Regions from separate parts of the Homo sapiens genome. Here regions 1 and 3 are each linked to region 2. The links come from fine-mapping of genetic effects on gene expression. A gene starts in region 2. Each other region holds a variant in brackets. All regions are shown on one strand. Distances are from middle to middle. Region 1 has its middle 30 kb from the start of RNF186. Region 2 holds the start of OTUD3 (OTU deubiquitinase 3). Region 3 overlaps OTUD3 (OTU deubiquitinase 3).

Region 1 (8,269 bases), 38 kb before region 2:
TCTTGCAAATATACTAAAAAACACCATACGGTATACTTTAAACAGGCGACTTTTATGGTATGTGAATTATGTCTTAATTTTAAAATGGGCCTAATTCTTCACTACTGGAGAAGGAAGAGACAAGTATGGAAAGGGAGAAATCGCTAAGAAACTGGTTCTGAATTGAAATTGGAGATTTGTGCGTGAACTTGTGGCTTTCAATAGACATAGATGGATACATATGGAAATAAAGATAGATTTAAATGTGTGCATGCAAATGTGTGTGTACATTCCTTATCACTGTCCACGGGGGCCTGGGAACAGTGACATCAGAAATGAGCATAGAACTTGGTTTCTAAGTTCCATTCTTGGTTGGGCGCGGTGGCTCATGCCTATAATCCCAGCAATTTGGCAGGCCAAGGCAGGCGGATCACTTGAGGCCAGGAGTTTGAGACCAGCCTGGCCAACATGGCAAAACCTCATTTCTACTACAAATACAAAAAATTAGCCGGGCATGGTGGCGCTCGCCTGTGGTCCCAGCTACTTGCAAGGCTGAGCCAGAAGAATCGCTTGAACCCAGGAGATGGAGGCTGCAGTGAGCCGAGATCGCACCACTGCATTTGAGCCTAGGTGACAGAGTGAGACTCCGTCTCAATAAACAAATAAATAAATAAATAAATAAATAAATTCCATTCTCTACCAAGGATTCTAATAAGGAGTCCAAGGAACCAGGACAACTCAGAAAAATGACTGATTCCAAGGCTAGAGTGGAGACAGTGCATGATGAATCTGAAACATGCTAGAAAGTAAGGAAGTACTCAAAGAATTCCGTCCCACTGTTCAAATCAGAGACAATTTGGTATCAAAATAAGTAATGATAATAATGGATTCAAACTAATGGAATAAAGTAGAAAACCATGAGTCTATACACATGTAAGTCAATAAAATAATACATTGAAAATGTCAGGAGGGGCCAGGCGTGGTGGCTCATGCCTGTAATCCCAGCACTTTGGGAGGCTGAGGCGGTGGATCACCTGAGGTCAGGAGTTTGAGACCAGCCTGACCAACATGGCGAAACCCTGTCTCTACTAAAATACAAAATTAGCCGGGCATGGTGGTGCATGCCTGTAATCCCAGCTACTCAGGAGGCCGAGGCAGGAGAATCACTTGAACCTGGGAGACAGAGGTTGCAGTGAGCCAAGACTGTGCCACTGCACTCCATTCTGGGCAACAAGAGTGAAGCTCCGTCTTAAAAAAAAATTTTTAAATGTCAGGAGGAATAGGGTATTTACGCAGTTTCAAAGTACTTCTCTGCACAATACTTACTAATTACAAAAGAAAAAAAATAACATCATAGTGGAAAAGTCAGGCAGATAGAAACTTAATAATAATGAACATCATAAATAATGGGATGGATCTAAACACTACTCTACCTAGGCCAGGCACAGTGGCTCACGCTTGTAATCCCAGCACTTTGGGAGGGCGAGGCAGGCAGATCAAGACCACCCTGGCCAACACAGTGAAACCCCGTCTCTACTAAAAATACAAAAATTAGCTGGGTGTGGTGGTGGGCACCTGTAATCCCAGCTACTCGGGAGGCTGAGGCAGGAGAATCGCTTGAACCCAGGCGGCAGAGGTTGCAGTGAGCCGAGATCGCACCACTGCACGCCAGCTTGGGCGACAGAGCTAGACTCCACCTCAAAAAAAAAAAAAAATTACTTCTTCTAAGAGGATGCAAGGAGAAGAACTCAACCTTGCTTCTGTGGCATTCCTGCCAATGATGCAAAACCTCAATAAAATCATAAGGAAACATCGGTCAAACCCAAATTGAGGTACTTTCTATAAATTAACTGACATGCCATCTTCAAAAATGTCATGTCCATGCAAGTCAAGGACAAACTGAGGAACTGCTCCAGGTTTAAGGGGAGTCTAGAGAGACTTTACCGCGAAACACAACGTGAGATGCTGAACTGGATTTTTTTTTACTATCAAGGACATTGTTGGGACAGTTGGTGAAACTTGCATGAGGCCTCTGGATTAGATGTTTTTCATGTTAATTTCCTGATTTTTCAGGGTTCCTTGTGGTTGTAAGGAATTGTGGAATATCTGTGTTTGTAGGAACTACATACTCTAGTATTTGGGAGATGTATCAGGCTGGTAACTTATTCTCAAATGGTTCAGGGAAGAAAGTTATGTGTGTTAGTAGTGCACTGAAGTCGGTTATGCTCAACGTCTTTCCAACTCTGCGTGCAGTAACCTCATGTTGGCAGCATGAAATTGCCTGTAGTGGGAGTATTTACACCATGGAAATTGGCAAATGTTACAACTCCAGTCTTTTTTTCCCTCTGGACAGCCAATTGTTAAACATTCACCAGCACACTGTTCTTTGTACCATCTTTCCAGATTTTTAATAAATTTGTGATTGTTTCAAAAAATTATTAACTTGGCCAAGCATGGTGGTTCATGCCTGTAATCCTAGCACTTTGGGAGGCCAAGGCAGGAGGACTGATTGAGGCCAGGAGATCAAGACCAGCTTGGGCAACATAGTGAGACCCTGTCTCTGTTAAAAATATATTAAACTAAAAAAATAGAAGGAAGTTAATAAGTACCACTTTAAACCTTCTTTTGAACAAGGCTTACAATAAATGCATAACAGGCATTTGTGTTTTAACCTATCTCTATGCTTTCAGTTAATATTCTTTTTTTTTTTTTGAGATGGAGTCTTGCTTTATCGCCCAGGCTGGAGCACAGTGGCACAACCTTGGCTCACGCCAACCTCTGCCTCACAGGTTCAAGCCATTCTTCTGCTTCAGCCTCTTGAGTAGCTGGGATTACAGGCACGTGCCACCATGCCTGGCTAATTTTTTGTATTTTTAGTAGAGACAGGGTTTCACCGTGTTGGCCAGCCTGGTCTCCAACTCCTGACCTCAAGTGATACGCCCACCTCGGAGTCCCAAAGTGCTGCGATTACAGGGGTGAGCTACTGCGCCCAGCCCTATTCTTGATAATCCTGTGAAGTCAAAATTATCACACCCCTTGTAGAGACAAGTAAATGGAGACTTGGATAAATTTCCTGGCATATTCCTTGGCATGTAATAGTTGCTCAATAAATGATGGCTGACCATCTCCAAGTGGAAAAGGTAAATCGCATACCCAGAATTTATGACTCTAAACCTCATGTACTTGCTTTTTTAAGATAAACTTTTAAACATTAGTTTTAATCACACAAGTACTGCATGAATATATATTCAATCATAAAATGTAACTCAGTAGGCCAGGTGCAGTGGCTCACGCCTGTAATCCCAGCACTCTGGGAGGCTGAGGCGGGTAGATCATGAGGTCAGGAATTCAAGACCAGCCTGGCCAAGATGATGAAACCCTGTCTCTACTAAAAATTAGCCAGGCATGGTGGCCGGCACCGGTAATCCCAGCTACTCGGGAGGCTGAGGCAGAGAATTGCTTGAACCCGGGAGGCGAAGGTTGCAGTGAGCTGAGATTACTGCACTCCAGCCTGGGTGACAGAGCAAGACTCTGTCTCAACAATAAATAAATAAGTAAATTTAACACAATAGGCCAGGTGCAGTGGCTCATGACTATAATCTCAGCACTTTGAGAGGTTTGAGCTCAAGAGTTTGAGACCAGCCTGGGCAACATGGTGAGACCCTGTCTGTCTTAAAAAAAAAAAATAAATAAATAAAATAAATGCACTGAAGAGAAGCCTAACTTATCCTTTATCACATGTACCCACTTCTCCAACGGCCCAGTCTCAGTCCCCTCTACATGAGCAGTCTTCCTTATCAGTCCAGTGTTCTCCTCCAGGCCTTTTTCTACGCATTTTTGTTTTGCTCTGAACCACACTGATGGCAAGTTCATGGCCAGCTTTGATGATCTGGAGCATTAGCATTTTCCCTGGGAATGAGCTCCACCACCTTCTCCCTTTCTTCTATTCTCAGATTGTTGACCTTGATTTTTCTTCCCTCTTTCATAAAAAACACACAAAGGCATTTCACTGGCAATCGAACCACCCTCTTCTGCACAGAGGCCTCGGGAGATTTATTTCCATCCCAGAGTAAAGTCCTAGGCTGTAGTCTTGGCTCCAGCCTCGGCCCCGTGTTACAGAAAAAAACAAAACAAAACAAAACAAAACAAAACAAAACAAAACAAAACAAAAAACACAGTTGTTCAGTTTTTCCTCGACAGTGACCTCCTACTCTAAAATAAACAACCATGACTGAAAGGGGAGGAAAGAAAGACACAATGTTTTCCAAATGTGATACAGAATTCAAGGGTGAGAGGATGAGAGGGTGAGGGAGTGAGGGGTGGAGCTTGGAATATTTTCCTTTCTTTGTTAATCGTCTGTGGGGACTGTCTTTACTCTATAAAGTCAGCATTACCCATTCATCTCCAAGACATTTGTTTCCTGAAACAGCTGAGTCGGCAACGGAGAGACCTTCCTCCAG[T/C]GAGTGCTGAGACCTAGGTCAGAGCTCATGGTTGGTAGTATCGGCTTTCTGCCAAAAAACATGATTTGCTTGAAAAACGAATGGATCTCTTATTTGTAGTAAGAACACAGAACTAAAATAGGCTGGGTGCTGTGGCTCATGCCTGTAATCCTAGCAGTTTGGGAGGCCGAGACAGGCGAATCGCCTGGGGTCAGGAGACCAAGACCAGCCTGGCCAACATGGTGAAACTCTGTCTCTACTAAAAATACAAAAATCAGCCGGGCGTGGTAGCACATGCCCATAGTCCCAGCTACATGAGAGGCTGAGGCAGGAGAATCACTTGAACCCAGGAGGAGGTGGTTGCTGTGAGCTGAGATTGCGTCACTGCACCCCAGCCTGGGTGAAAGAGCAAGACTCCATCTCCAAAAAAAAAAAATCAAGTAGAACTCAATCTAAACTAACCTTAAATTATACTTTGTTTAAGGAGTGTGAAGAACCTACTACTTATTGAATGCTCTACAATGAGCATACTACTTGTATATTTTACTGAGATATTAAATTGTATTTTTATTCTCGTAATGGCGGTCTCCCCTCCTTCATCCTAAGCAGGTAGCCAGAAGCAGGAGTTTCTAGGACCCCTCAAATCAGAGCCCTCCCCTACCCATGCCTAGGAGCTGGGTTCCCCTCGGTGGCCAGAGTGGGATTGTATGAGAGGGAGCAGGGCTTCAAGGGTTGGAAAAGATGGAACAAGCTGATAAAATCCCTTAGTAGAGAAGGGGGAGAGGAGAAATTTGGGAAAGCTCTCCAGAAAATAGGAAACGTAGAACAGAGAGAAAAGTGGAGCTAGCAGGACCTCTGATGGGGATGATTGTGGGCTGAGCTGAGGGAATTCTGATCCCAGGCACAGAGATCTCTGGCCTGGGCAAAGACTTCCTGTGCTCCAGTTTGGCTCCAAGGCAGCATAAATACCACCTTCAAGGTAGGCTGGGACAATGGTCCAGTGCGGGCTGCTGATGGGAGGGTCTCAGCACAGGCTTCGGAGGACTTTTGCACAACCCTAGAGAAAGTAGTGCCTCCCAAAATGTGACTGAGTTGGGATTTTCCAACAACCAGGGAGGTGGGGCTCATTAGCTGTTACAGAGAATGAGCATTTTCTTATACCTGATGGTGAAGGAATTCAATACACACCCATTATATAAACACCAACTTTGATCCACATAATACTTTTTATGCAACTTTTACTTTCAAATTTTATTTGTATGGGTGTATTCCATTTAATACTTTACAAGAGTCCAATAAAGCCCTTTCACATATAAAACCTCATTTTATCCTCACATCATGCTTTGACAGTGAATACGGTTCATATTGTCTGATTTGCTGAAGCTCAGAGAGAAAGCTGAACCATGAATGGGTCTTTCGTGCCTCTTTCCTGTGTCGTGGGAGCCCTTGGTTGGGCCCCACGTTATCCCATTCAACCCCAAGGTTGGCTACCAGCACTTCTGGCCTTAACCTTTGCCAAAATTTTGACTCTGTAACTCCCATTCCTTTGATCTGCCTTGCCCTGTGCATACGAGGGAAACCTGTGTCTGTTCTCCATGAATACTCCATGCTTGGGTATGATCCTGGTCAATTATAATCTTCTCAATATGAGGACACTCCTTTCTTTGTTTCAACTTGTTCAGATTAAAAAACATAGAATGAGCATCTCCCATGTGTCAGGTATGTGCAAGGCATTCTCATACAGTCCCTCATTACTCTTATGTAAGAGGTATAACTGTGCCTGGTTTTTAGATGTGGAACCTAAGGTTCAGGAAGGTTAAGGAATGCGCCCAACATCACCCAGCTAGGAAGCGGGAGTACAGGGATTCACACCTTCCTTCTCTGAGTCCAAGTCTCTGCTCTGTGCCTAACTCCACTGGGTTGCCTTACACAGTTTCCAGGTTCTCCATTCATTCCAAGTAGAAAATAAGGTCAATGTTAAAAGAAAAGCTATGCTTCATTTCTCTGAATCCCAAGTTGCATGTTGCTATCTGCCGTGACTTAAAGTCACTCCAGGAGTAAGAACTCAGTTTTGACTGTTATCTTAGATACGTTATTAAAACAGCAGCCCTAGGGTTACCAGAAAGGGGTCCGGATCCAGACCCCAAGAGAGGGTTCTTGGATCTTGCGCAAGAAAGAATTCAGGGCGAGTCCGCAGTGGAAAACGAAAGCAAGATTATTAATAAAGTAAAGGAATAAAAGAATGGCTACTCCATAGACAGAGCAGCCCCGAGGGCGGCTGGTTGCCCATTTTTATGGGTTTTTTTTGATGATATACTAAACAAGGGGTGGATTATTCATGCCTCCTCTTTTTAGACTACATAGGGTAACTTCCTGACGTTACCTGGAGTGCCACTGCACTCCAGCCTGGGTGACTGAGTGAGACCCTGTCTTAAATAAATAAAATAAAATAAAAGTTAAAGAAATAGTTTGACCTTAAAGCATTTAGCAAATCTGATGTTTGACCTTAATTTAGACTAAATGTTTATATTTTAAAGACATTTTATTTTACCAGTAATTTTTAAAACTGTCTTTATTTTTAAGATTACTAAAGTCATGTGAACAAAAAGGCATTAAAGTTTCTATTTTTGACAAAATATTTGATTTAAGTGCTTATTTTTTTAACCCAATTAATTAGAGCTTTTTATATATAAACATACAACACATATAAATACACAGACAGACAGAAGATTCAGCACTTGTAAGATTTTTCATTTGCCAGTTTCTTAATTGGATGACTGGCTTCAGGGTGGAGCCCTTGGAAGAACAAGGCTGGGAAAGCTTGGTTTCTAGGGCCAAATAAGCAGCTGAAGGCAAAGACAGAGTCTTAAAATTAAGGATGCCATTTTACACTGGATCCTGGATCCCCAGAAGGAGGGAAATACTGTGGGAGAAGACAGTGCAGTCCTTCTTCTTTGCATTGCACTGCAAGGTAACCCAAAGCCAATTAGCCCATTTTGTAATCAGCCCATCCCTCGTGGGAGTTTTATCTCCCATTGGAGTTGGGAATGTTTCCTTATCTTCCAGGTGGCTAAGAGCATGCTTCTCTGATTTAAGTGTGCAGAGTCAAGTCTCCCTCCGTAACTACTATTAACCATCCCTTAAAGTATATTTCCTATCTGGTTATTATATACCAAAGCTCTTTTATAATGCAAAGTAAATTTTGATTCCCTCAGAACTCAAAACTGTCAGATAACACAATGCAAAACGTAACAGAGCCTTTGATTTTGAGAGGGATCTATCTGCTTTTAATTCCTGGGGTTTCATGAGGAAAACAGAGGCTTTTTTTCCAAAACGGGGTCTGTGGTGCCTCCTCTGTGTTTCCCAAGGAGTCCCAGCTACCAGAAGTTATTTTAAGGCCTTTCATGTGTGCATTAAGAGTGGCAAGAAGGCCGTGTGCAGTGGCTCATGCCTGTAATCCCAGCACTTTGGGAGGCCGAGGCAGGCGGATCACTTGAGGTCGGGAGTTCGAGACCAGCCTGACCAACATAGAGAAACTCCATCTCTACTAAAAATACAAAATTAGCCAGGCGTGGTGGCACATGCTTGTAATCCAAGCTACTCAGGAGGTTGAAGCAGGAGAATCTCTTGAACCCGGGAGGCAGAGCTCACGAAGAGCCGAGATCGTGCCATTGCACTCTAGCCTGGGCAAAAAGAGTGAAATTCTGTCTCAAAAAAAAAAAAGAAAAGTGGCAAGAAAAAAAATGGAGAAAAACGATTTAGTTGATTGAGAAGAAAAAACTTTTTTTCAGTAAAACAAGTTCCAAGAAGAGAAAAACAGAGGGCTTTTAAGTATATTTATAGCTTTTTAA
Region 2 (8,000 bases):
ACTGCCAACACTTGGACATACCTTCTAGTGCACGTGCATGTAATTTGCTTTAGGACTATCTGCGTCTGAGAGTGTACTTTTGAAGGAGCTACATTGTCCGGAGTATATACCCTGGGGTTCATCGTCTTGCACGAGGAAAATTTAGAATACGGATACACACGAGGAGTTTAGGAGGAGATGTAATATTTCTATTTTTAGGATAGATCACGAGATGTAGACACTAGACATTTAAAATGTTACCAGATACAGGCCAGGTGCAGTGGTTCATGCCTCTAATCCCAGCACAGTAAGAGGCTGAGGCACGCGGATCACCTGAGATCAGGAGTTCGAGACCAGACTGGCCAACATGGTGAAACCTCGCCTCTACTAAAAATACAAAAAAAAAAAAAAAAAAATTAGCTGGGCATGGTGGTGTGTGCCTGTATTCCCAGCTGCTCTGGAGGCTGAAGCAGGAGAATCTCTGACAATCTCTTCAGCCCGGGAGGCAGAGGTTGCAGTAAGCCGAGATCATACCACGGCACTCCAGCCTGGGCAACAGAACAAGACTCCATCTCAAAACAAACAAACAAACAAAAAAACAAAAAAAACCCCAAAGTTACCAGATACAGTCCAAATTGCCCTCCAAAGTGGCTAGATAAATTTACCTCCCAACAGCAGTGTGCGAGAGTTCTCATTTTCCCATACCCTTGATGGTATGTTCTTGAAAGTCCTAAAGCTGCATTTCTTCACTAAAATTCTGTTAGTCACACTTTTTACTAATTTATACTGCCATCCAATGAGGTTTGATTACTATTATTATTATTTTTGAGACAGGGTCTTGCTCTGTCACCTAGGCTGGAGTGCAGTGGCACAGTCATACCTCACTGCAGCCTCAAACTCCCAGGTTCAAGTGATCCTCCAACTTCAGCCCCTCCCGAATAGCTGGGACTACAGGCATGCATCACCATGCCCAGCTAATTAAAATTTTTTTGCAGAGATGGGGAATCTCACTTTGTTGCCCAGGCAGATCTTGAACTCCTGGGCTCAAGCAATACCCCCACTTTGGCCTCCCAAAGTCCTGGGATTACAGGCATGAGCCACTGTGCGGGTCAATGATTCTTTTAATTAACTCTAGCGAAGTGGGCAGAGCATTCATTTTATTTACAAGTACTATACTCCTTCCCTTTGGCCTTTAAATATAATTTATAGGCAGCATTGATTTGCACTTAGAGACACTGTCTAACACAGGTCTCCGCTGAGAAGAGAAATTCGCCCATTCAAAATCTGTGTGTGGGCTAAAGGCTAAGGGCTTATGCCAGAAAAGATTTTTTGTTTGTGTTTTTGTTTTTGTTTTGAGAAGGAGTTTCACTCTTGTTGCCCAGACTGGAGTGCAATGGCGCAATCTCGGCTCACTGCAACCTTTGCCTCCCGGGTTCAAGCGATTCTCCTGCCTCAGCCTCCCCAGTAGCTGGGATTACAGGCTGGCCTCGAACTCCTCACCTCAGGTGATCCGCCCGCCTCCACCTCCCAAAGTGTTGGGATTACAAGCGTGAGCCACACGCCCAGCCAAAAAGATTTTTACAAGACGGGCAAGTGTTCGCTTTTCTATCAATATGTTAGCAGTCTGTATTTACTTATTTGCTGGTGAGAAACCTTTCTTCCCTGGTTTCTAAAGTTTGAAAGTCTTTGCCCCTGAGCTCATGAGATTTCCAGAGAACTGATTCAAACAACTTCATTAAATAGGTACTTACTTCATGCCTGGGGCTTTACATTTTTATTTAATCTTTACAACTCTCTTTTGCATTCTTATTGTCATCAGAAAAATGCAAATCAAAATCACGATGAAATACCATCTCATGCCAGTTAGAATGGCTTTTGTTAAAAAGAAAAAATAGCAGATGTTGCTGAGGCTGTGGGGAAAAGGGGAACATTTTTACACTGTTGGTGGGAATGTAAATTAGTTCAGCCACTGTGGAGAGCAGTTTGGAGATTTCTCAAAGAACTAAAAATTGAACTACCACTCGACCCAGCAATCTCATTACTGGGTCTATACTCAAAGGAATATATATCGTTCTATCAAAAAGACAGATGCACCCGTATGTTCACTGCAGCACTATTCACAATAGCAAAGACATAGAATCAACCCAGGTACGCATCAACAGTGGATTAGATAAAGAAAATGTGGTATATATACACCATGGAATACTATGCAGCCATAAAAAAGAACAAAATCATGTCCAGGAAGAGGGGAGAACAGCAACATGGATACAGCTGGAAACCATTATCCTAAGTGAACTAAGGCAGAAACAGAAAACCAAATACTGCACGTTCTTATAAGTGGGAGCTAAACATTGGATACACATGGACACAAAGATGGGAACAATAGACTCTGGGGAATACAAGAGTCGGGAGGCAGTTGGGGGAAAGGGTTGAAAAACTACCTATTGTGTATTGTGTACTTTGCTCACTACCTGGGTGACAGATTCATTTGTACTCCAAACCTCAGCCTCACGCAATATAGATGGGGTTTCACCATCTTGGCCAGCTGGCCAGGCTGGTCTCGAACTCCTGACCTCAGGCGATCCCCTGGCCTCGGCTTCCCAAAGTGTTGGGATTACAGGCGTGGGCCACTGCACCTGGCCTCAGTTTTTGTTTTTGTTTTTTTGTTTGTTTGTTTTTTGAGATGGAGTCTCGCTCTGTCCCCCAGGCTGGAGTGCAGTGGTGCAATCTCGGCTCACTGCAAGCTCCGCTTCCCGGGTTCATGCCATTCTCCTGCCTCAGCCTCCCGAGTAGCTGGGACTACAGGCGCCCGCCACCACGCCCGGCTAATTTTTGTATTTTTAGTAGAGACGGGGTTTCACAGTGTTAGCCAGGATGGTCTCCATCTCCTGACTTTGTGGTCAGCCCGCCTCGGCCTCCCAAAGTGCTGGGATTACAGGTGTGAGCCATCACGCCCAGCCTGGTCTGTCTCAGTTTTAAAACGGAAAGTCCTGCATCCCAAGAAAACCTCTAGTCCAGGCAAACCTAGGTGGGTCGCTCTAGGATGGAATTAGGATTTCCAGTGGTCTTGGACAGAAGGGCGACCTCTCCCTTGAGTTACGAAGGAAGGCGGAGAGATGAAGGGCAGGATTAAATAAACAAGTATGCGGGCTTTGGAGCCAGGGCAAAGCTCTGCCTTTTAGCTGTGTGATCTTGAAATTATTTAACCACTCAGATTCAGTTTCCTGTAATTTGGGGATAATTAAACAAGAATGAGCCGTGTGAAAGTGCCTATCCAACTGTAGTAGGCTCGCAGCAAGAGTTTAAATCGTTTTTATTCATCTCCGGTCCTAACTTTTGCCGCTGCTCTGTGTTCCACTCTTCTATCATCTTTAATTTCTCTGCTTGACTTGTTCCTGCTTTGTTCTCTCTGGTCCCTCTCCGGTCGCTCCTGCCACTCACGTTGAGTACCATCCACCACTAGAGGGCGGAATAGAACAAACCAAGATGGGTGCCCCTCCAGCTCTCTATGGCGTCTGCTCGCCGAGCCCCGCAAAAGAGGCGGGGATTCCATCATGTGACCGGGGTGCTGGGCGCCGGCGCAGGCGCGGTTGCTGCGTAGTCGTCGCCGGGCTCCGTTGCCCGCGCTGTTTTACCTTCCCAACGCTTGAGGCGGACGCTGGGGGGTCCTGCGCCTTTCCCTCCTGCCGCTGGGGACTGCAGGCTAAGGCCATGTCCCGAAAGCAGGCGGCGAAGAGCCGGCCGGGCAGCGGCAGCCGGAAAGCCGAGGCCGAGCGCAAGCGGGACGAGCGGGCGGCGCGCCGGGCCCTGGCCAAGGAGCGGCGGAATCGGCCGGAGTCTGGCGGCGGCGGCGGCTGCGAGGAGGAGTTCGTCAGCTTCGCCAACCAGCTGCAGGCCCTGGGGCTGAAGCTGCGGGAGGTGCCGGGGGACGGGTGAGGCGGGCCGGGAGCGAGGGAGGCGGCGCCGGGGGACGCGCCGGGCTCGGCCTGGCGACCGTTGCCCGCTCGCGTCCATCCATCCATTCATTCGGGCGGCCCGGGCGCCTCCCGCGAGCCAGCCACGCTCCGAGTGCAGGGCGTCCAGCTGCGAGTGAGGCGGACAAGCCCCTCGCCCCGAGACGCTCGCGGGGATCCCAAAGGGTCCTAATCATGGCAGACGCCGCGAGCGAAATAGAAAGTGGGTGCTGAGACCGTATATGGGAGCAGGGCCACTGGATTGTGGCCAGGAAGGGCTCTCTCAAAGGTGACATTTAAGCTGAGTTCTGAAGGAATGAGATGGAGCCAGGCATTGGAAAAACAGTTATCATGACGATAAGACCAGTTGAAGGAGTTTGAGTAAGCCCCACTTGGTAGAACGCTTTGCCTCCTTTGAGTCCTTGGTTTTTGGGTGGTGCCCCCATTTACATTTGTGAAATTAGGTCGCCTGTTTACTGAGCTGAAGGCAGCTTCTCTAATTCTTCCTTCCATGGGCCTCAGTTTCTCTGTAAGCAAAGGTGCTTCCCCAAGCTTTCTTGGGACTTAGACTGGATCCAGGTCCAGCTTTCTTTAGGGAACGCGGAGGGGGAGAGTGGGGAGGAGGAAGAAAATTAGCTTCAAGAAAGGGGATATGGCTCCAGGAACATGGATGGAAGAAGGAAAAGGGTCAGGAAGAGGGGAGAACAGTTAGGATCCCCATTGCAGGGGCAGGTAAAAAGGGGTCTGGTTGTCAGCTGTGTCACTTTGGAAGAGAGAGTGTTAATAACAGCCTGGCTTTTGTTTTTTTCCTCCCCGTATTTGAGTGCTCAGATCCTGCAGAGGGAAGACTAAAATGAAATTAAAGACCATAAGGAATTGCCTTAGTTCATTATTATTGTTATTTTGTAGAGACGGTGATTTTGCTGTGTTGCCCAGGCTGGTCTCGAACTCCTGGCTTCAAGCGATCCTCCTGCCTCGGCCTCCCAAAGTGCCTAGATTACAGGCATGAGCTACCACCCCCGGCCAGGAATTGCCTTAGATATTAACTGCAGAATAAGGTGTTTTAAAAATTTTCACATTACATTGCAGCTTATTGATTAAGACTGTGAACTGGTCCTAATTTCCCTTTCCCACCGTTCCTGTTTATGCTCATTGCTTCAGGCAGATTGGATTTCTTTTTGCTCACAAAGAGTTCACCACACTTTGCTGCGTTGCTGTTTTTGCTTAAGATGCAGTTGGAACTTGATTACATTTATTCACCATCATCTGGCAAAGTGCTTGGTACATGGAAGGCAGTCAGTACGTTTTTGCTGAATGAAATATAAAAATAATAGAGGGAGGTCAGCTAGCCTAAGCATAAGCCCAAGACACCCTTATAGAAACAGAAATACCAATTGAATACAGTGGAATTGGCGTGGGACATTGGGGCTTTTCCTTGCAAATGATTGGATTGCTTGTGTCTGCTATACTGGGTATGGTATTCTCAATGTCAGGGTGCCCAGGAAACTGAAGTACTCAATAGAAGGTTACTTATGAGGAGGAATTAGCACAGGGAGTTGTAAACTCTTGAGGGGGCTTTCATAAGGTTATGGGAAACTTTGGGGGTACTACTTCTGCTCCCTATCCCCACACCCCCATACACACACAGCATACTTTTCAAGTTAATTCAGCACACCTTAAGTAGGGTGCTGGGAATATGTTGATGACTAAGATACTTAAGGACTTCATAGCCTAAGGTAGAAACACGTAACAGTGGGTCTCAGCTTTTTTGGTCTTAAGATCTCTTGGCATTCTTAAAAATTACTGAGAAACCGAAAGAACTTTATATGGGTTATAGCTATGAGTATTTACTGTATTAGAAAGTAAAACAAAGTTAAAACACAAGAATACACACACATTCCATTAGCTATCAGAGTGATGACTTCATGCATCAGGTAGCCTCTGGAAAACTCCACTGCACTTGTGAGAGAATGAGAATGAAAAAGGTACATTACATCTTAGTTTTGAACTCACGGATACCCTGAAAGCATATCAGAGACCTTCCCACATCTCCGGTCCCTTGAGTCACACTTTGAGAACAGATGATACAAATAATTAAAATATAGTTTGATATATTTTTAGTAACAGTGACTGATTATAATGGTACTATTGAGAAGGAAAAGGCTACTACTCTATGAATTGGCCAGGAAGTCCTTCTCGTTCATTCGGTAAATACTCATTGGATACACTGCTAGATGCCTCTCAGAGGGTGTCATGCTCTGATTGGGTCATGAAGGACCAATAGGAGTACACCAAGAGAACGGTCCCATCTGAGAAGGAGTATATATAGAGGCACAAGGACACGATGTTTTTGGGAGATCTACAGGTTGTTTAGGGTGACGGGTAGTGTAGGGCACAAGGGTAGAAGTAACGGGCAGTGAAGCTAGGCTCCAGAAACCAGCTTGACTGGAGTGCTCATGTCTCTCTTCCAAGGTTCCTGTTATTCGGACAGTGTTAGATAAAATGATCGTATTTCCTCTTGTGTGGGCTTCATGGAGCTAACCACCTTCTGTTCACAAGTTCTTCACATGAGTTCCATTAGCTGGACTGTGGTTCAGCCCTCGTCAGTATCCTAGTCCTTTCGAATGTGGTGATGACAGACTTTATCACTGCAGGGGATGGTGTTTCCTGTGTATGTGATGGGTTGGCAGGTGTCAACAGATTCTTCTACCCCCCTCAGACGGAGTCTTACTCTGCCACCCAGGCTGGAGTGCAGTGGCACAATCTTGGCTCACTGCAATCTCTGCCTCCTGGGTTCAAACAATTCTCTTGCCTCAGCCTCCTGAGTAGCTGGGATTACAGGCACCTGCTACCACAGCCAGCTAATTTGTTTGTATTTTTAGTAGAGATGGGGTTTCACCATGTTGGCCAGGCTGGTCTCGAACTCCTGACCTCATGATCCATCCGCCTTGGCCTCCCAAAGTGGTGGAATTACAGGTGTGAGCCACCGCGCCTGGACAACGGATTCTTTTATTAATGTTTATTAAGGACTCAGGTGAAATATAATGAAGTTAAAGACTATTAAAAAATAGTTGACATCTCTAGCGTTCCCTGTTTTCATTCAGATTTGATTACAATCTGGAGTAGCCTGATACAGTATCTATGAGCATGTTCATTGTTGGCAATATGGTACCTGTAGCATTCTGGAACCTGAGGGGGTTTAGGGATGAATTAACCAATATCCTGTAATACAGCCTTTACATGGGTTGAGTCAGCTTAGTGTAGATTAATCAGGGAGCTACTTAGAGGGTTTTGTAATGCTTCCTGGACCAGCTTCATATTTCACGTGTTGTCTGGAAGGTGGACCCACATAAATTGGATTCATTTTTCAAAGCAAGAAAGAAATAGTTTAACCTTGATGTTTTCCTTAAAAACATGATTGGCTATAGTGTGAAAAGAATGTATAACTCTATTTATTAGGCAGTACAATATTAACATCCCTCTGAACTTATCTAGTTGGGTCTTACTAAATGTAGTTCTGAGTTACATTACTCATTAGCAGTGTTCTAAAATTGAAACATTGAAGAATCACTAATTTTAGCTGTTTATCTTATTACTAACAAGTAGTTTATTTTTTAGTTTTGTTTTTAATATTGCAGGATCACAGTAGTAGAAGGGCATTCACACATCATCTTGTCTAATTATTGCCTGTGTCACCTGAACAGCAGTGCCATCTTTTGTGCCTCACTCAGTGGTTTTCAGTTGGGTGCCATACTAGAATATCTGGGGAGGAACTTTTGAAACAATTCAGGGCCTGGGCTCTCCCCTAGATCAACTACATCAGAATCTTAGAGTGGGGCCTGGTTATTGATGTTTTTTAAAAAAAAATTTACAGATGATTCTTATATGCATCCATAATTGAGAGTGACTGATTTAGAGTCTAGATGCTCAACTAGTGTTTCTCAAACTTCAGTATGCAACATAACCACCTGGACTGCTAGTGAAAACACCTGGAAGGGCTACGTTGCTGGGCCCCAACCCCAGAATGCCTGATTGAGTAGGCCTGGGTGGGCCCCAGCATTTTCATTT
Region 3 (8,224 bases), 24 kb after region 2:
TCCCGGGTTCACGCCATTCTTCTGCCTCAGCCTCCCGAGTAGCTGGGACTACAGGGACCCACCGCCACGCCCAGCTAAATTTTTGTGTTTTTAGTGGAGACAGGGTTTCATCGTGTTAGCCAGGATGGTCTCGATCTCCTGACCTCGTGATCCACCCACCTCGGCCTCCCAAAGTGCTGGGATTACAGGCATGAGCCACCACGCCCGGCCAGTATCTTAAAGTTTTGAATTGCATTTTCTTAATAGCTAATGACATTGAACATCTTTTCATGTGGTTTTCGGCCATTTGTATATCTTTGGAAAAATGTCTATTCAAGTCTTTTGCCTATTTTTTAATTGGGTTCTGCCTTTTTGAGTTGTAAGAGTTTTTTAATATATTCTAGATGCTAGATTCTTACCCAGGTATATGATTTGCTGTAATTTTTTTGGTTTGCAGTAGTTTTTTGTTGATTCTCTTGTTTCAGTTACAGAATTATATCATCTACAAAGACAGATTACTTTTTTCTTTTTAATTTTATACTTAAAATTTATTTTGGCTAAATACTTTGGCTGTTACCTCCAAAATATTGTTAAGTAATAATGGGGGGAGTGATTATTGTGTTTCTTCCTTTAGTGGGAATGAAGACATCATTCTGTGGATTTACAGTGGTTATTTAACCATATCCATACTATAAAGCCTTTGGGTGGTTTCCAGTTATTCACCACTATAAGTAACACTGTTAGCACTTTTACCTGAATCTTTTCTCTTTTTTTTTTTTTTTTTTTTTTTTTGAGACAAGGTCTAGCTCTGTTGTCCAGGCTGGAATGCAGTGGTGTGATCTCGGCTCACTGCAACCTCCACCTCCTGGGCTCAAGCCATCCTCCCAGCTCAGCCTCCTGAATAGCTGGGACTACAGGTGCATGCCACCATGTCCAAATAATTCTTTTGTATTTTTTTTGTAGAGACGGGATGTCACTTTGTTGCCCAGGCTGGTTTTGAACTCCTGAGGTCAAGTGACCCACCCCCATCAGCCTCCCAAAGTGCTGGGATTACAGGTGTGAGCCACTGCACCAGGCCCATAAATCTTTTCTCTATTTGATATTATTTCCTTTGGCTAAATTTCAAAACTGTGAAACTACCGGCTCAAAGACTCCTGTAACTTTGTCAAATTCTTAGGGTTTAATTTTATAATAGAATGTTTTGTATTAACATTCTGAGGAATATACTGTACATTGCTGGAGTCCACTATATGTTTACATTCAAAAAATAGAACTGTCTTTGCCCATTTACCTATCTCCCTGCATCAATGGGAAGCAGAAGAAGAAGGTGGTTGAGCATCTACAGAGGGATGATTTTAGCTTTTCTGATTTAAGGCCCAGGTTGTAAAGGTCTCATGGATCCCAAGTGAACTGTTGTTTGTGGCTTTAGGATTTGGATTGACAAGTTTCCCTGGGTGTGGTGGTATGTACCTGAGGTTAGATGAGTCATGCTCATCCGTGACTGTCCAGCTGGGACGGGAGCTTCAGTACCTCTAAGCGTGCTGATGATCAAATAAGGCTTGGGAACCAGAGGGAAGTTGTATGTAGGTTTCTTCAAGACCAGCACCGTTTTTGTGCAAAAGTTCACCAGGTGCGAGTATAGAGGATCGTTTTCTGTTAAGCTCACGGCTCTGAAAATCAGCTGAGGTGACTGTGTGCTGTCAGAGGCAGCAGTCATTTGCCAGTGTTGGCATTTAGACATGGGAGTGCGAATGCCTTTCTTACTGAGCAGTTATTCTGTCTTTTGGGCCTTTCTTTTCAATTCCTCTGTTGTGACTCAAAGTACAATGAGTGGATAAAATGGAGCCTAGTCATTGCTGTTCTCTTAAGGTTGTTTCTAGAAGGTTTTCCCCTATATATATGAATTTTTCCAGATTAGAGTGTCTTGTGTTAAAGATTCTGAACATAGTTTGATTCTCAACATAGTTCCCTGATTATTACTTGTTTCCTTTAGTTTCAGATGCTTCATCAAGATGAATCAAATAAAAGAGAAAAGATCAAGACAAAGGGAATGGACTCTGAAGACGACCTGAGAGATGAAGTAGAGGATGCTGTCCAGAAAGTTTGTAATGCAACTGGATGTTCAGTTAGTATTTCTGTCTTGCAGGAATGATTTAGAAGCAAGCATTGCTGTGCCTAGCTTACTTCTTAGTTTCGTAGCACCTCTCTAGCATATCAGCACCTTGTGGGCCAAAATAGGCCCATGAGATTTGTAGTTTGATTAGTGTATGTGGCTTAATGAGAGCTGTTTATTAATTTCCCTGTTGTTTGCTAGACTTCACCCAGTACTGCTCAAAGGTCTTAGGAAGTATGTGGATTTAATTTTTCCTGACTAGTGTTTACAGTAGTACAAATGCAGTTTTATAGAGGGAATTCATTTATAAGTGTACATTAGACGGTTATTTCAAGGGACCAACCTTATTGGAAATCGACATTTTTCTAAATGGAAAAGGTCCTGAAACCTTGTGTTAATTCTCACTATTACATCTTTATGTTTATGATTATTGAAGTAGAGCTAGGCAGAAAAATATACCCAGAGTTTTGAAGTGGTTTTTTTGTTTGTTTGTTTCTTGGATAGGATTTTAATTTAATAGTCCAGAACCTGGAAGCTGAAAATTATAATATTGAATCTGCAATAATTGCCGTGCTTCGGATGAACCAAGGGAAGAGAAATAGTAAGTCCATGACTAATATTTATAGATCTTCAAAATGGTTGTGTTGGTAATTTTCCAAATATTTATTTTTTAACCAAGTCACAGGTGGTAACTGTTCTGTCATTCATTTAGGAGTTGTTTATTGAGCACGTTCTGTACGTAGACATTTTTTACTAGGTCCTGTCTCTGCTTCAGGGGGAGTATAGTTCAGGGGTAGAGGGTGGATAGTGGAGACAGATAAACTGGTGCGATAGTACATAATGGGGTTGGGAGTACAGGGTGCTGGGGGACGCATCAGGGAAGAATTAGCCTGTTTAGAAATAAGATGGCCTTAGAAGACCAAAATGATAACCAAAATAAAATGGAGAGAGAAATACCTTGTTTTTCTGGTGGAAATATTTAGATTTGTATTAGCTTGTGATAATTTTGATTTTTTTTTTTTAATTTGAACCAAGTATAATTTTGTGACTCAGAGGAAAGAAAAGAGATGTAACGGCTGGGTGTGGTGGCTCACACCTGTAATCCCAGCACTTTGGGAGGCTGAGGCAGGTGGATCACGAGGTCAGGAGTTTGAGACCAGCCTGACGAACATGGTGAAACCCCGTCTCTACTAAAAATACAAAAATTAGCTGGGTGTGGTGGCGGGTGCCTGTAATCCCAGCTACTCAGGAGGCTGAGGCAGGAGAATTGCTTGAACCTGGGAGGTGGTGGTTACAGTGAGCTAAGATCGCACCATTGCACTCCAGCCTGGGCAACAGAGCGAGACTCCCTCTCAAAAAAAAGAGAAAAGGATGTAACATCTTATTAATTTCTCAAGTCATTTATTTAAAATGATATCAATAAATACTGATTGCCAGATGTTACGTGTCAGATACTGTTTCTGGCATCATAGTGCTCCATGTGATGAGGTATTTTATTATCCACTATGTATTGGCTGTACTTTTAGAAATCTGTAAGTAACTTGGTCTTTGTGACTTTAAACAGCACCCTCCAGTGATCTGTGCTGTTCAGTATAGTGTGTACCTGCCACATGAGCAATGAGACTGGAGAGCTACGTTTTAAATGTTGTTTAATTTTAATTTAAATGTAAATGGCCACATATAGCTGGTGGCTAATACATTGGACAGCACAGCTTTAGAGCCTGTTTCTTTTCTGGGTTTTGGGTGCAAATGAAAGATTTTCCCATAAAAATTCATGTTAAGACATAATTTATCTAAAAAGCACTCTGCTGGTTGGAAGCTGATCAAAAGGCTGGTCAGTGGGTTATTTTAGAATTTATCTTCCAACTTTTACCAACTTTTTCTTCCTATGTTTCCCACTGTCTTGACATTCGAATTTGTCTCAAGGAAACTTACTTCCCTTATGACTGAAGTAGGGACCCAGGTAATTTTGGAATCATTAATACAGTCATCACCCTGTGTAACTCTCAGGTTCTCAGTTTTAATGAAATGTCTTTCTTTGGAAGATGCAGAAGAGAATCTTGAGCCCAGTGGTCGAGTGCTGAAGCAGTGTGGCCCTTTGTGGGAGGAGGGTGGCAGTGGTGCCAGAATCTTTGGAAATCAGGGCTTAAATGAAGGCAGGACCGAAAACAATAAGGCACAGGCCAGCCCTAGTGAAGAAAACAAA[G/A]CAAATAAAAACCAGCTCGCAAAGGTATGTAAGATGGGGTTGAATGGGCAGGTGGTGGGCAGGTGTAATTCTGTGGCAGTGGTGGTAGCTTGAGATTAATTTTATTTGTATTTTCCTTCTGATTTATAAAAGTAGTGTGGAAAATCTGGGGAATGCATAAAGCTACATCAAGAAGCAGAATGACCTCACTTATCCTGTTTGGTGTATGCCGTGACAGTTGGAAGGAAATACACCCTGAAATTGTCCTCAGTGTACAAATGAAAAGCCTCCTTTTCCCACCTAACATTACTGTACATGTGGGCTCTTCCCATGTTTATCCATGTTTTTTATAAATGCCATGATCTGCAATGAACACCTTTGTGTATAAATCTTTGGTTTTTGCATTATTTTCTTGAATAAAGTCCCAGAAGAGGAATGAACAGGTTAAAGGTCATGGATACATGAATCTTTTAAAGGCTTTTGGTAAATTGTCACGTGCTTCCCAGAAAGGTACATCTCCCTCCCTGCCCTTCACTCCCACAAGTAGTATGTGACATCTTCCATTTTACTGAATTTGGAATCATTTTAAAGATTTTCACCAAGAAGTTCTGAGCTCAAAATGCCACAGTGTAAAAAGCCACAGCAGAGGCAGAGATGCAATAAGCTTCTGAGGATTTTGTCAGAATTACCTGGGGCATTAAATTATGTGGGGAAAAATGTTCTCTGACACGTTTGTTTGTTACCAACTCTTGCTGGATGAGGGCTGGTTTCTTTAAGAGAAGAATGGAATTGATTTTGTTTGCTAGTTCAGCAAGGAAATATAAATTTAAATGCAAATTTGAGCAGCAGTGGACAGTAAATCATCTTTGGCGTCTTAGATTGGTTTTCCCTGTTCCTGCTGAAAAGCAATCTGTGCCCTTTGCCACCATCTCCCTTCTAGCAGGTGGCAGCTTGAGTCCCCCGTGCTTCCTACTCACCACCATGGCCTTCTCTCTCAGGTCACAAACAAACAGAGGCGAGAACAGCAGTGGATGGAGAAGAAGAAGCGGCAGGAGGAGAGGCACCGCCACAAAGCCCTGGAGAGCAGAGGTAGCCACAGGGACAATAACAGAAGCGAAGCAGAGGCGAACACGCAGGTCACCTTGGTGAAGACCTTCGCCGCTCTCAACATCTGACTCTTTGGCCTCTTGGGAGTTGTAAGAAGCGGCTGGAAAAGGATTGCTGTGTGCTAGACTTTCCAGTGAGGCCGTCCTTTTATAAAACGCAACACAACCAACGAAGCCCACACATGAGCTCACACACTGAGTTAGTTTCGTTCAAGCTGCCTCTTTTTTTGTTCGAAGTTTTATTAGTGATATGTTGGTGTTTTATGAAAATGCAGTGAGGCCATTCATATTCTGTAATACAAAATTAAAATACTGAGTTTTAGGGGCAGATAGTTAGGTCAGGAAAAACCTTTTAAGTGGTGGCTTTATTTGCCCTGAAAATCAGACTTCAGTGACCCTAGGATCTTTCCTTAACATTTGGGGTGAGTTTTGCTGTAATTGTTCATGAGTAGTTTAGAATAATTGTTAGAAATTCAGAATGACAAGTTTCCTTAGTTTCTCTTTCATTCTCAAACAGATATATAGGGTAGCTTATAAATGATCTCCAACTCAGGAATATGCTTTGATTTACTTCTAATCCAAGTTACTCAGAAAATAATTCAGGAATTGTTTTCCCAAAGTTACGTGAGGGTTGTGGCCTGCAGTCAGGATGGAAATTAACCGCATTTCTCTCCTTCCTGATTCTGATGTTATTTCAGATGGGATGCAGGTGCTGTTAGTTCATTTGCACTCAAGCCATATGATAAATGCAGCTGACTGTTAATTAGGCCTGGCCTTGTTGGGAAGTTGATAGTGGTGTTGGGTTTTTGGTATTTGTTTCCTGACAGTGGGGAGATGGCATGTTACTGCTTGTGATACAGTTCTGGAATTCTGATAGTGTGTAGAGCAGGGTCTATAGTTGTAACAGGAGACGAACTCCTGGGGTTTTGCCTAAGAGGAGTCTAAAGAATTATGTTTTTATAGGAGAAGCCTGGAAGAATAAGGTTTTTCATGTTCGCATTTTAAATAACGATTTTCTTCCCTTCTGTTGTAGACTTAGATGCCTTCAGAGAGATACGTGGTAACTTGACCTTATAGGTCGCTAAACTTAGTATTGTGGAAATTAAATCTTATAAAATGCTACATTTATTTCTTTTTATTTAAGCCCTGTTTGGCATTTCAAAGTTGGGAAAACTCCAGCATCTGCTGGAAGTTGTTGGACCAGCAGGGTTGGTTGACTTAGGTTGGACCAGCAGAGAAGAGAACATACTTTGGTTGAGGCCTTCGAATCACTCTTCAGTTCTGAAATAGACAGACTTGAGCAGTGGAGAGACGTCTTTCCTAAAACTGAGTTAGGTGGATGTGAACTTAAGAACTATAACGTATGAGGCAGCCCATCTTGGATCATCTTTGTCTTTTGGGACCTAATACTTGGGCAAATAATTGATGCTGAGTTGAAAGGTAAATTATTAGTTATCTTCCCCACCCCTCGCATTTCAGAATTATAAAAATTCGGAGGCAAATTGAAAACTAAAATGTTTGGTAGGCCCTGGAGTCGCCAGATTGTCTTTATCACCAGGCCTTTGGCTTTCTTCAGTTTCACTGGTATCTTTTGGTTTTGTTTTTGACTTTGGTGGCTTTTTGTAGTTGGAGCATCAGTAGTCTCTTGGAATTGCTCCTAGGACATTGTGGTTTAGGTTTCTTCCTGGGTACAGTACATTGTAAAATTTAGCAGATTAAAAAAAGTACACAGCATTTTTTTTCTGTGCACGTCGCAGAGTCCTGAGCTTGAGGCTGTGTTACTCTACTCATTCCAAACGAATGAAAGATCTCTGTTGCCTTACTCTAAGGAAGTGGGATCGAGTGCGTTAGGATCTATGGTTGTCTTGGTTTTCAACTCTGGGCAGATTCCTGACTGGCTGAGTGTTTCTGAATGAAGATGTTTTCCTGTCTGTTTTGTACTGCTTGAGTGCAGAGGCCAGATCCTCTCAGAAAGATAAGATTGTATGCCAGAAATTCAGATTAGCAGTCAGCTTAAGAGAGACTTATTGTCAGAAGTAGTAGAATTGCTTTATTTACTTGGTTAATGAAGGTGGCCTTGGGCCCTATTGGGTTTTAGAAGTTTTAGAAGCTGCTAAAAAGTTATTAAAGAATATTGGGAACATTTATTTTTTAAATTACCTAATTCTGGTAATAGGCTTCAGCATTTCTGGAGTATAATAATGGTGGTTTAAAAAACTAATCAAACGGCTTTAGTAATTTTACTACTGGTTTCACAGCTTTTCAGTTACAGTTGGTCTGTTTAGTGTGTTAATTATTAGGAATCGGGTACATGCATCCAACTTCAGTGATACCTTCTAGCTAATGGTTTCAATTTAGACTTCACTGCCTCAGTCTCACTGGGTACATGAGAAGGTTGGAATCAACATGCTTAGTTGCCTCAGTGGGCACTTGAAAATTCCTTCACTGGCAGCCCGAGTGGAGGCCCAGTATGTCTAGTCCTGGGATGACTGTTGTCAGCAGCTGTTACTCTAGTACAGGTGCTCCTGTGAACTCTTTATTAGGAACTGAATGTGTCTTAACCTCTGTGTTACATCTTGGCTGGCAGAGATTTATGTTACATGAGATTGTCTTGGTAGCTTGTAGTGTGGTCAGGAGAAAGGGGATGGAGCAGTGGTGCATAGCTGCTTACTGCTCTTATAAACGGTATATAAAGGTTTTACGGATTTTGAAAATATTTTTTTTTAGAGGTCAAAATAAATACCATTTTAGTGGCAACAGCTTTGAACTAGAGAGGTAGATGTATTAAAGCAGCATAGAACCATAACTTCTAGATAATGTAGTTGCCACTAGGAGATATTA

Evidence for each region.
Region 1: its variant is fine-mapped to the expression of OTUD3 in whole blood (INTERVAL, PIP 0.96).
Region 3: its variant is fine-mapped to the expression of OTUD3 in tibial nerve (GTEx, PIP above 0.99). The same link has a PIP of 0.9 or more in visceral fat and whole blood.

The regions. Positions count from the first base shown.
Region 1 is chr1:19,840,952-19,849,220 of GRCh38, forward strand. No RefSeq gene overlaps it. Among named protein-coding and RNA genes, the nearest start is that of RNF186, 30 kb to the left of the region's middle. The variant T/C (reference allele first, on the strand shown) is at 4,440.
Region 2 is chr1:19,878,824-19,886,823 of GRCh38, forward strand. It overlaps OTUD3 (OTU deubiquitinase 3), which reads left to right and starts at 3,572. Exons shown (of 8, transcript NM_015207.2): 1 at 3,572-3,911. The coding sequence starts at 3,691. The region is part of intron 1 of LOC105376823 (a long non-coding RNA gene); the gene reads right to left. RefSeq lists an enhancer at 3,356-3,405 and a silencer at 3,776-4,115.
Region 3 is chr1:19,902,295-19,910,518 of GRCh38, forward strand. OTUD3 (OTU deubiquitinase 3) reads left to right here. Exons shown (of 8, transcript NM_015207.2): 5 at 1,973-2,104; 6 at 2,597-2,693; 7 at 4,138-4,322; 8 at 5,276-8,224. The coding sequence ends at 5,452. Among named protein-coding and RNA genes, the nearest start is that of PLA2G2E, 17 kb to the right of the region's middle. The variant G/A (reference allele first, on the strand shown) is at 4,299.